Linked DNA regions of Homo sapiens: region 1 is linked to region 2. Evidence: fine-mapped expression QTL. A gene starts in region 2. The other region holds a variant in brackets. All regions are shown on one strand. Distances are between the middles of the regions. Region 1 overlaps MMP2-AS1 (MMP2 antisense RNA 1). Region 2 holds the start of MMP2-AS1 (MMP2 antisense RNA 1).

Evidence for each region. PIP is the estimated chance that this variant, and not a neighbour inherited with it, causes the effect.
Region 1: its variant is fine-mapped to the expression of MMP2-AS1 in whole blood (TOPMed, PIP above 0.99). The same link has a PIP of 0.9 or more in esophagus mucosa, ileum, lung, macrophages, monocytes and monocytes after LPS.

Annotation. Positions count from the first base shown.
Region 1 is chr16:55,424,313-55,429,832 of GRCh38, forward strand. MMP2-AS1 (MMP2 antisense RNA 1) reads right to left here. Exons shown (of 7, transcript NR_147198.1): 5 at 5,049-5,168; 6 at 3,189-3,272; 7 at 2,485-2,658. Among named protein-coding and RNA genes, the nearest start is that of MMP2-AS1, 35 kb to the right of the region's middle. The variant T/C (reference allele first, on the strand shown) is at 2,505.
Region 2 is chr16:55,459,438-55,464,437 of GRCh38, forward strand. MMP2-AS1 (MMP2 antisense RNA 1) reads right to left here and starts at 2,860. Exons shown (of 7, transcript NR_147198.1): 1 at 2,738-2,860.

The sequences.
Region 1 (5,520 bases), 35 kb before region 2:
CCAAGCACACCCCCACCCTGAGGCCTGTGCAGGGGCTGCTCCCCTACCTGGCCTGAGCCTCCCTGACATCCCCATGGCCCCTTTCTCACTGCAGCTTTCTCAGTTCCCCCAAGGGGAAGACCACCAGCCACTCCCACTCTCTTGCCCACGTCATTATTTTTCAGAATGCTGGTTTCCTAAGGAATCCCCCAGTCACTGCCCTTCCTTCTGTACCCTAGGTCTTTAAGGAGACCAAAATAAGACAAGGAATGAGGACAGGACAGAGCTGCTCACATTCAGTTTATTCCTCCTAGAATCCTTATCAATCAGCCAAGTCACCTCCCTTGGGGCAGAGCAAGGTAAGGGGAATAGAGACATGGAGATCCTCCGGATGCCCCTGTGCATGGAGGAGGGGTCAGGAGTGGTGAAATCCTCAATGCTTCTCACACCTGTCATCATATTATGATAATCTATTGCATGGATGCATCCCTCAGGTCCCTTTTACTTATTCTGTGTGCTCACCCCCAGCCTCTACACACATTTTCCCCTACTCCTCCTTCTCTTTCTCCTTCTCCTTCTCCTTTTTTGGGACAGAGTTTCTCTCTTGTTGCCCAGGCTGGAGTGCAGTGGAATGATCTCAGTTCGCTACAACCTCTGCCTTCCGGGTTCAAGTTATTCTCCTGCCTCAGCCTCCCAAGTAGCTGGGATTATAGGCATGCACCACAACACCTGGTTAATTTTTATATTTTTAGTAGAGATGGAGTTTCACTATGTTGGCCAGGCTGGTCTTGAATTCCTGACCTCAGGTGATCCACCACCCTCGGCCTCCCAAAATGCTGGGTTACAGCCGTGAGCCACCACACCTGGCCCTACGTATTTTACTTCTAAAAGGTTCACACCTGGAACTTCCTTCCTGTGCTGGCCCATGAACCTCTGCAGCTGCTTTGTCCCCATGGCATGCAGAGAGGAGAAAAAGTACCCAAAATTTACTCCCCCTCACCCCTCCAGCCTGTAGCCAATGGATGTGGGAGTATAAAAGCCTGACACCCCTGCTTCAAAGACAGACAGACCCTGAGATGTAATTTATACCCCAGAGCTCTCCACAGGATCAGGCAGAGGTTGGGACTTTGGGAAGCTGCACCTTTGCTGGGCTTCTTCCCCCTCTCTTGCCCTGTTTCCCTATGCCCTTATGGATATCTCCTGGGAGCTCTTTCTTAATAAATTACCTGCACTTCAACCCTTGTCTCAGCATCTTCTTCTGGGAACATAAGACTGAAGGCACTCGCTGTTTGTTGTTTATTTCATTTCCTTACTAGAACATAAGCTCCCAAGGGCAGGAGCTTTTCTGTTTTGTTCAGTTTTGTATTTTCAGCAACAAGAACAGTGCCTCGTATACAGAAGGAGCTCAATAAATACGTATTAAGTGGATGCGTGAATTTGTGAATATATGTCAATTGACAGAAATATACCAGGACCACTTCTAAAGAAGGCTTCCCCTGTTCTGTTTTATGGTCTGCTATGTCCCTCATGACTGAAATCATTCGCAGCACAAAGTAGATGTTCAATGAATATCTATTGATCAACTCCCATAGCCCCTGTCTGCTCTATTTTAGCAACTGTTCTAGGAAAACTGCTAATATATCTGGCCTCTGCCTGGCTTCTCTCCACCTCCCTCTCAGGCCTTTGCACAGAGCAGGTCCTCAGCCTGAGAGGACTGCATTACAGTTTCAGGGCCTACTGGGTGGAGGGACTGCTAGGGCTTAAGGAACAGGAGCAATAGACCCTACTAAGATGGGTGAGGCCTCTGGAAGGCTGTGACAGCCTAAGCTGTTAGGGAGAAGCTTCTGGGCACAACTGGGTCATTGGAAGCCACTAGGAGAATTTGAGGTCGCCTGGGTGGGACAGGGAGGGGTAAACTTCTGGGACAACATTAGATCCAGAGAATGGGGAGCCTCTGGAGGAGGGCAGAACAGAGGGGGAAAGGCAATGCTACTAGTGAGTGTTAGGGCCCACTGGGCAGGGGGATGTTTGCAGGGGAATAGTTGGGCATCCTGGTAAGCAGAAGCCCATGGGGACTGATGGGCCAATGGGGAGGGGAAAATTATAGGGAAATCTTGGGGCTTTGTTTACAGTGGAGGCTTCTGAGGGAAGTGCTAAGTTTCAAAGGTATTAAGGTCAGAAAATGTCAGAAAGTAATAAGGGAAAAGAGGAAATTAAACCAAGTCTGCTCTCTCTCTCTCTCTCTCTCTCTCTCTCTCTCTCTCTCTCCCCCTCTGTCTCTGTCTCTCTTTCTCTCTCTATTGTTCTCCCTCTTACCTTTCTCTGATATTTTTTCCTCTTTGGTGTTGACAAATCACTGTCAGTAAGTGACATTCTCCCTTAAGAAACCTATCTGACACAGAGCACAAGGCGTGATGGTTGTTCATGGATCAGCCAGATTGAATTAAGGTTCAATTTCAGGTTAGAATCAGCTGGAAGAGATGAGACCCCCAAAATAGCAGTGGCTTCAGCAAAACAGAGCTTTA[T/C]TTCTCCCTGGCGGGATCTTCAGGCTGGTGGCCCAGGTTTGGAGCAGCAATCCTCAGGTGCAGGGACCCTGTGCCTTCTGCCTTGCCACTCAGCATCATCACTGCATTTCTCAAGGTGGCTGCTGGGGTGCCAGCCTTTATGGGCAGTTCCAGCCTGCAGGAAGGAGGAAAGTGGAAAGAAAGGTGCATCCGCCTAGTAAGGGTGCTCTCCAGAAGTTGCACACACCACTTCCACATATGCCCATTGACTAGAATACGGTTAAGTCACATGATCACATTTAACTGCCAAAAAACCTGGGGCAATGTAGTGTTTATTCCAGGCAGCCAAGGATCCACTTAAAAGCTAAGGGTGTTTCTTATGAAGGAAGAACTGAAAATACATATTAAGGGACAACAAGCACATAGATTGAGGGAGCCAACCAGGAACATCAGGAGCCTCAGAGAGTCCCTCGAGAGACGAGCTCACATGGTGTGCTGGTATTTATTGCTACATAACAGCTTACCCCTAAATTTGGCAGCCTGAAACAGCAAACATGTTATCTCGTGCAATTTCTGAGGTCAGGGGTCTAGAAGCAGCAGAGCTGGGTGGTGCTTGCTCTCTAGAAAGGCTGCAGTCAAGCTGTCTGCTGAAGCTGAAGTCATCTTAAGCTCAATTGGGGCTAGAAAATCCACTTCCAAACTGACCTCACAGGGTTGTTGCTGGAGGCTTCAGTTCGTTGTCTTGTGGGCCTCTCCATTGGGCTGCTCACAACATAGTAGTTTGCTTTCCTCAGAGCAAGAGATCCAAGGAAGAGAAGAAGGAAAAGAGGAGAGAGAGAGAGAGAGAGAGAGAGAGAGAGAGAGAGAGAGAGAAAGTCATCTAAAATGGAAGCCACAGTCTTTTCTAACCCTTCTGAGAAGAGACACGTCCTCTCATCTGCTGTTTTCTTTTTGGCCACAGAGCCCAATCCTGGCACAATGTGGAGGAGGATATGAATCCCAGGAGGCAGGGATGACTGCAGGCATCTTGGAGGCTGACTACCAACCATGGATAGGTAAATGAGTGCCAGGAGTTAGGAGATCACACCTCGGTAGAGAGAGTTCCTTGAGCCAGGAAGACTATGCACAGGCTCAGGAAGGCTGGCTGGGCCTAAACAGAAGTGGGTCAAAGGTTAAGGAGTATGTCTCAGTCTATTTGGGCTGCCATAGCAAAATGCCATAGACTGGGTAACTCATAAATAGCAGAAACTGATTCCTCACAGTTCTGGAGGCTGGGAAGTCCAAGATCAAGTTACTGGCAGATTGGGTGTCTGGTGGGGGTCCATTCCTCATAGATGGCATCTTCTTGCTGAGTACTCAACATGACAGAAGGGGTGAACAAGCTCCCTGAGGTCTCTTTTATATGGGTACTAATCCCATCCATAAAGGCTCTGCCTTCAAGACCTCGTCACCTCCCAAAGGCCTCACCTCCTCATTTCATCACACTGGGGATGAGGTTTCAACCACTAATTTTTGGTGGGAGGAGACAAATATTTAGACCTTAGCAAAGTACAACAAAATGTTCCTGTGGTTGCTTTCTGATATTCACCCAATCACCCTGAAGGGACAAACCTTTCTACCACTTCAAAGAGGGAGACAATCTTACTAGCATGTAATAATCAGCACTGTTACCCACAGCTCAAGCCCTCACCCTAGAAACAAAGCCAAGACCACTAAGTGGGTAGGTGTCCTGGCTAAGTGTGGACACAGGGCACAATCAGAGATGTGAACACACAAAGAGCTTCACCAGCTTCTCACAGACCCTGCTTGCCTTTCGAAGTGATGAATACACATGGCCTGGTCATTCCAGAGACTAATAAGACCCCTCTGGCCCATTACCTGAAACTGGGGACCCAATACCATGCAGATGGACTGAGTCATTACAAAGGCAATTAAATGCCCAACTCCATAGCCAGGTGCCAACATGTAGGCTTTTGTGCATGGATAACTTAGTTCTTTCAGGAGGGGAAGAATCTTTAGTCTTATTTTCTCTCAAGCCTGGGGTTAATTGGGAAGCCAGCTTCGGTGACTAGTACACAGAGGCTAATTTGTACAACCATTGCTCACAAGTGGGTGGGGGGGATGACGGCAAAAAAAAATAAAAATACAACATTGCTGGAGACAGTCTGCCATTGAATTGGATCTTAATATTCTAGTCCATGAACCAGCGGTTGCACTAGAGCTTGGTTAAAAAAAAAAAAAAAGCAGGAAAAACCCACACACATTCTTTCAATTTCTAAAGGGAAATTTGACTCGGGCTGTAGAACAAAGGACGAAGAAATAGAAGTAAAAGAAAATCAAAGAAAAAGTTATTTGGATTCAAGGGGATCAGATGTTTCATTTATTGCAGGTTGGAGACCTTCAATCAGCCAAATGAAAGGAACATTTGTATTAAAATACCTATGAGGCAGAGAGAAAGCCTTGATCGGGTGCAGCAGAGTTAAGTTACAGCAATCGTGCTGAGAGATATGAACCCACCTTCGAGGTTATCTGTTCCCAATATTGAAGGTTTTCTGTGTTACAAACCTGAGATGAAAGGTAGTTGTTTTGACGTCTGGGTCTGGAAGGCAGACGCTGAAATTAGCAGCATTCTTGATGTGTGTGCAGCAGGAACATGGAGCCCGGGATGGGGTGAAAATGTAGCTGCTTTATTAAAAGGAAACGATGTTAATGCAACACTAAGTGCCCAAGTCACCCATGAGGGTAGGGTGTAGATGGGGATTACAAAAACACCTTCTGAGAAGGGGCAGAGAAGGAGCACTGCACTAGGGGTCTGGGACCAAAGGTATAGCCCCTCCTCTGACCCTGGGTTGGTAGCTCCAAAATAGCTGGGACTTAGCCTGTCTAGTTCACAGTGCCAGGCATATAGGAGGTGTTTGATATATGTCAAACAAATGCATGAATGAATAAATGAATATGAACTTGGGCCTCTTTGGACCTAAGTCTTACAAAATAAGGAGCTGGGACTAACTATGGATTTCTCCAGTGGGATGAATAC
Region 2 (5,000 bases):
TAGCTGGGTGTGGTGGCACACACCTGCAATCCCAGATACTCAAGAGTCTGAGGCAGGAGAATCACTTGAACCCGGGAAGCAGAGGTTGCAGTGAGCCGAGATTACACCACTGCACTCCAGCCTGGCAATACAGCGAGACTCAGTCTCAAAAAAAAAAAAAAAAAAAAAAAGCAGCTCTATGTGACTCCCTCCCTCCCCCTACAAAAAAATAGAGGGTTCAGAGACTCAGTCAACAGCATTTCTGGTTCAACAAGCATCAAAACTAGCTGAGTTCTAGGTCACTGGGGTGGGGCAGAGGAGAGGTCTAAGGACATTTCACACCCTGACACCAGTCTGTCCTTTTCTTGGGGGTTATTTCCAACCACAGACTCCTTTGCAGCCTCAGAATCCCCGAAAGCAGCTCTCCCAGGCCCCACCCAGCTTCCCTCCTGCAGTGCTTATGCCCAGTTCATGCACCAGTCTCCAATCCAGCCATCTCCTCTCACCCCTGGCCCTCAGCTTCATTTGCCTGGGCCTGTGACACCCAAGGTCTTGGAACCCTATTAGGTTGGTGCAAAGGTAATTGTGGTTTTACCATTGAGTAAAACCACATTTACTTTTGCACCAATGTAATAGATGCTGAAAAAACGGCCTTGTTTGGGAGCTCAGGAAAGCAGCTGGCTGAATTCAGAGAGACAGGACTGACTGGGATCCCCACAATCCTCACTCTCCTGGGGAATGGCCCCTCCGAAAAGCACCCTGCAGCCCCCGGGCTGATTTCATTGGGATATGCAGGAAGCCAACCGCTCCTGCTCACAACAACTACTCAGCACTGACTGTGTTTCAGACACCATCCTCAGCATCAGATGAGCAAAATCTAACACTCTCAGATGCCATCTGAGGTGGGCTTACTGAATATCACCCTTGGAAAGATGTGGAATTGTAAAAGAAGAAAAAAGGACCTCCCTTTGCTAGAGTGGGATCTTATTTCCGGCAGCCAAAGAGGCCAGGGCTGAAAAACGCCCAAATGGCCTCTGAAGCAAAATCTCACGATGAAACAAGCCTCAAAAAGCATTTACTAGCATTTCTGGTCATGGCTGTTACGGATGAAATGGTGCCTCACCTTCTGCACCCCCTCTGGCCCCCACACCTTCTATGTTCCTATCTCAGGGATTCTCCACAGGGACCTGGAAGGACAGCTGAGTGGACCGAGAGATCACACGGAGCCACTGTGAGGGGTCAGGGGATAGGGAGAGTGAGCTGCCCAGGGTGGCTGCAGAGAGGGGAGCTTGGGGAACAGAGACCGCAGGGAGAAAGAGCTGAGTGCAGCCTGAGCCCGTGATTTTCAAGCCCCGCCGCTGGCCTCCTAGGGTTCTTGTAATCATACTCCGACTCCCTTCTCCTTAGTTAGTCTAAGGGGGCTTCTGTTTCTTGCTCCCAACTGCTGCCTCACTAAGATAGACTCATTTTCAGATCTCTCTACGGATTGTAGCCTTTCCTGCAATTCCTGCCTGGATGGCTGCTCCTCCAGGCCTGGACTGGATGGAAGGTTCCAAGCGAGAACCTGCAGCATTTCTGCTTCTGCGGCATCATCCACCTCTGAGAACCACTCCAGAGGACAAGCTGAGGAGCCTTCCAAGAGCTCCATGTGTCTGTAAATGCCTTCAAAACCTGGTCTCAGTGCATCCTTTTTGCACCCACAGCCAGATAGCTGACCACACAACATCAGGATAGAGTGGTCACCACCCATTTTCTGTCATGGGAAAGGAAATTGCCCGGGAAAGGCCTTGCCCAGTGCAGACATGGCAGGCAATGCTGAGAGCTACAAAATCCTTCTAGAAGCTGTTGTCTTTCAGTTATTAAGACTATAAGGGCTGGGCATGGTGGCTCACACCTGTAATCCCAGCACTTTGGGAGGCTGAGGTGGGTGGATCACAAGGTCAGGAGTTTGAGACCAGCCTGGCCAACATGGCAAAACCCTGTCTCTGCTAAAAATACAAAAAAAAAAAAAATGCGCATGCCTGTAATCCCAGTTACTTGGGAGACTGAGGCAGGAGAATCGCTTGAACCTGGGAGGTGGAGGTTGCAGTGAGCCGAGATCACGCCACTGCACTCCAGACTGGATGACAAAGCAAGACTCCATCACGGAAAAAAAAAAAAAAAAAAAGAAGGCAGGCTGCCTAGCTTAGCTTTGCCATGACTAATCTACTTACCAGCTAAGCAACATTTGTGCAAGCTATTTCACCTCTGTGTGCCTCAGTTTCTTCATCTATAAAATAGAGATAATCATTTTACACCCCTCAATAAATGTCTTTTGAATCAATTAATGAATACTTGTAAAACACCTGGCATATTGTAAGCCCTTGTTAAATGTAAACTTTAAATGTTAAATGGTTTCTTTCTTTCTTTCTTTCTTTCTTTCTTTCTTTCTTTCTTTCTTTCTTTCTTTTCCTGTTTCTGTTCTCTCTCTCTCTCTTTCCCTCTTTCTCTCTTTCTCTCTTGGAAGGTCTCACTCTGTTGCCCAGGCTGGAGAGCAGTAGTGCAATCATGGCTCACTGCCTACAACCCCACCGTAAGTCCCTCTGGGATTCCATGATAGAGGTACTTATTCCAATTAGGGTCAAGCTGGAGGAAGAGGCGGCTGTGGCCTAGCTGTCAATTCCTCAGGGCTGGTCATTGGGGAGGAAGGGCAGGAACCAGCTGAGTTCACTGAGAGTTGGAACAGGAGACGCAGAAAGGTACAGATTTGGAAACTGACCTGGGTATCACAGTTAGGGCTCCAGGGCACTCCAGCCTGCGGTGGGAGTTTGTAGGTGTCTAAGCTGTGGCTGGGAGGGCAGTGGAAGAAAGTCAAGCTGTGCCAATTTTCCTATTTGAAGAGAAAGGGAGCAGGGGAACCAGAGTTCTAGGTGACACCATCGGGAAGACAAGCTGTGTCCTCAGCCCGGCCTGGGGGGAGGACTGGGTTGCAACTTACAGGAAAGAGGATTGACTGGATTCTTAGAAAAACAAGAGCCAAGGCTTGTTGCTGTGCAGAGGGATTGGGGTCACCAGCTGGCTGTTGTTACCGTGACTGATTCCTGATGCTTCGGAATTCAAGGGCAGGAGGCACTTGGGGCACTGGCTGAACCTTGGCTCCCTGACCCCTCCTCAGTCCCCTTCCTGGGCTCCACAACATATAAGATGAACGTTCTGATTGTCTATTTCTCCTCCCTTCTCGTTTTACTCTTCATTTGGTGGAGTGTATGGTAGGGATAAAATCTTAGAGATGTTTATCTGAGCCATAGAGAGACCTTATTGGGGGTGCATGGGAAATACACAAGTAATCCCAAGCTCACCTTGCCTGGGTGCCTGCGGAGGGCAATTGTGCATTAGCGGTAGAGTGTGGTGGGGACCTGGGCCTGGGTGGGCAGGGGAGAGCTTCTGGACAGGGGCTGGTGGATTAAGGTCATGCCCATAGGTGGGAAGCCACCCACACAGAATCACAGCATCTCAGAAGGGCAGTGCCAGAAAAATCCCCAGGGACCTCATTTTCCTTGGAACACAACCCAATTCCTTGGCTTGGCCAACCAGGCCTAGCGCATCTGGGCCCAACTTCATCTGCCTTCATTCCTCCACTGCATCAGTAGGGTCATTTGGGTGTAGGCCACAGAAGTAAACTCTGGCAACATAAGCGAAGGGGGATTTGTTAGAATAGGATAAGGGAGCCAGGCAACTGGAGCAGACATCAAGGTGGGAACACCAGGCCTCAGGGTCCCGCAGTTGCTGTGCCTGGGCTGCCATTGTTCCATCTGTATCTATGTCACGCGAGGTCATATGAGTGGGCCGGGCACGGTGGCTCACGTCTGTCATCCCAGCACTTTCAGGTGGATCACCTGAGGTCAGGAGTTCGAGACCAGCCTGGCCAACATGGTGAAACCCTGTCTCTACCAAAAATATAAAAATTTGCCAAGCCTGGTGGTGGGCATCTGTAATCCCAGCTACTCAGGAGGCTGAGGCAAGCTAATTGCTTCAACCCAGGAGGCAGAGGTTGCAGTGAGTCGAGGTCATGCCATTGCACTCCAGCCTGGGTGACAAGAGTGAAACTCTGTCTCAAAAAAAAAAAAAAAAAAAAAAAACCATATGAGTGTCCCATTGGCTCAGCCTAGATTACAGCCCCACCCTGGCAGGGTAGTAGGAGGAAGGCTTAGAACTGTCTTGGCTTCTGAAGAGGGCAGGACAGTAACCCAATCCACCTTCCCAGAAACACTGTCCTCAGTGGGGAGGAGGGACAACTCCCAAGGAGATGGGGACACATGCTCGCCAACCAAACCCACAAAAGCTCATTGTGCCTGTCGCTCTGCTCCAGCCACAGTGGCCTTCTTCTGTTCTTCAAATACAAAAAAGCTTGTTCCCACCCCAGGGCCTTTGCACTTGCCATCTGCTCTACCTGGAACACTCTTCCCCTTGTTCTGCATGTGACTGCTTCATTTTCCTCCTTCAGGACTCACACCTAACAAGGGCCTCCAAGAGGCCCTCCCTGACGACCCATTCTCAAGTTGCCCTCATCAGATAATCTTGACCTCATCCCTCCCAGGTCTCCTAGCCATCTAAAATTACCTTGTGTATGAGTCTGTTTGCTCTGTATTGCCTGTCTCCCCACTGGAATGCAAACGCCACAAGAGCAATGACTGCGGTTAATTGCTGCTATATATCCAGCACTCAGCACAGGGCTTAATAAGCATTTACCAGGCAAATAAACATATAGAGACAGAGAGCCCCAGAGGGACGGTGCTTTGGCCGAGGATGCCCAGAGAAAATACTGATGTCATTGAGGGTGCAGAAGCCAAATCTTGCTTGCTCCGGGGGCACTGGATGGCACCAGCCTAAGAGTGTGGGCACCAGAGCAGATTGCCTGGGTCAACACTCACTCTCTGTGTAACCTTGAGTGAGTTTCTTAACTTCTCTGTGCCTTGGTATCCTCATGCATAAAGAGATGACCATAATAATAATGCATTCTCAGGGGCTGTGGCAAGGATCAC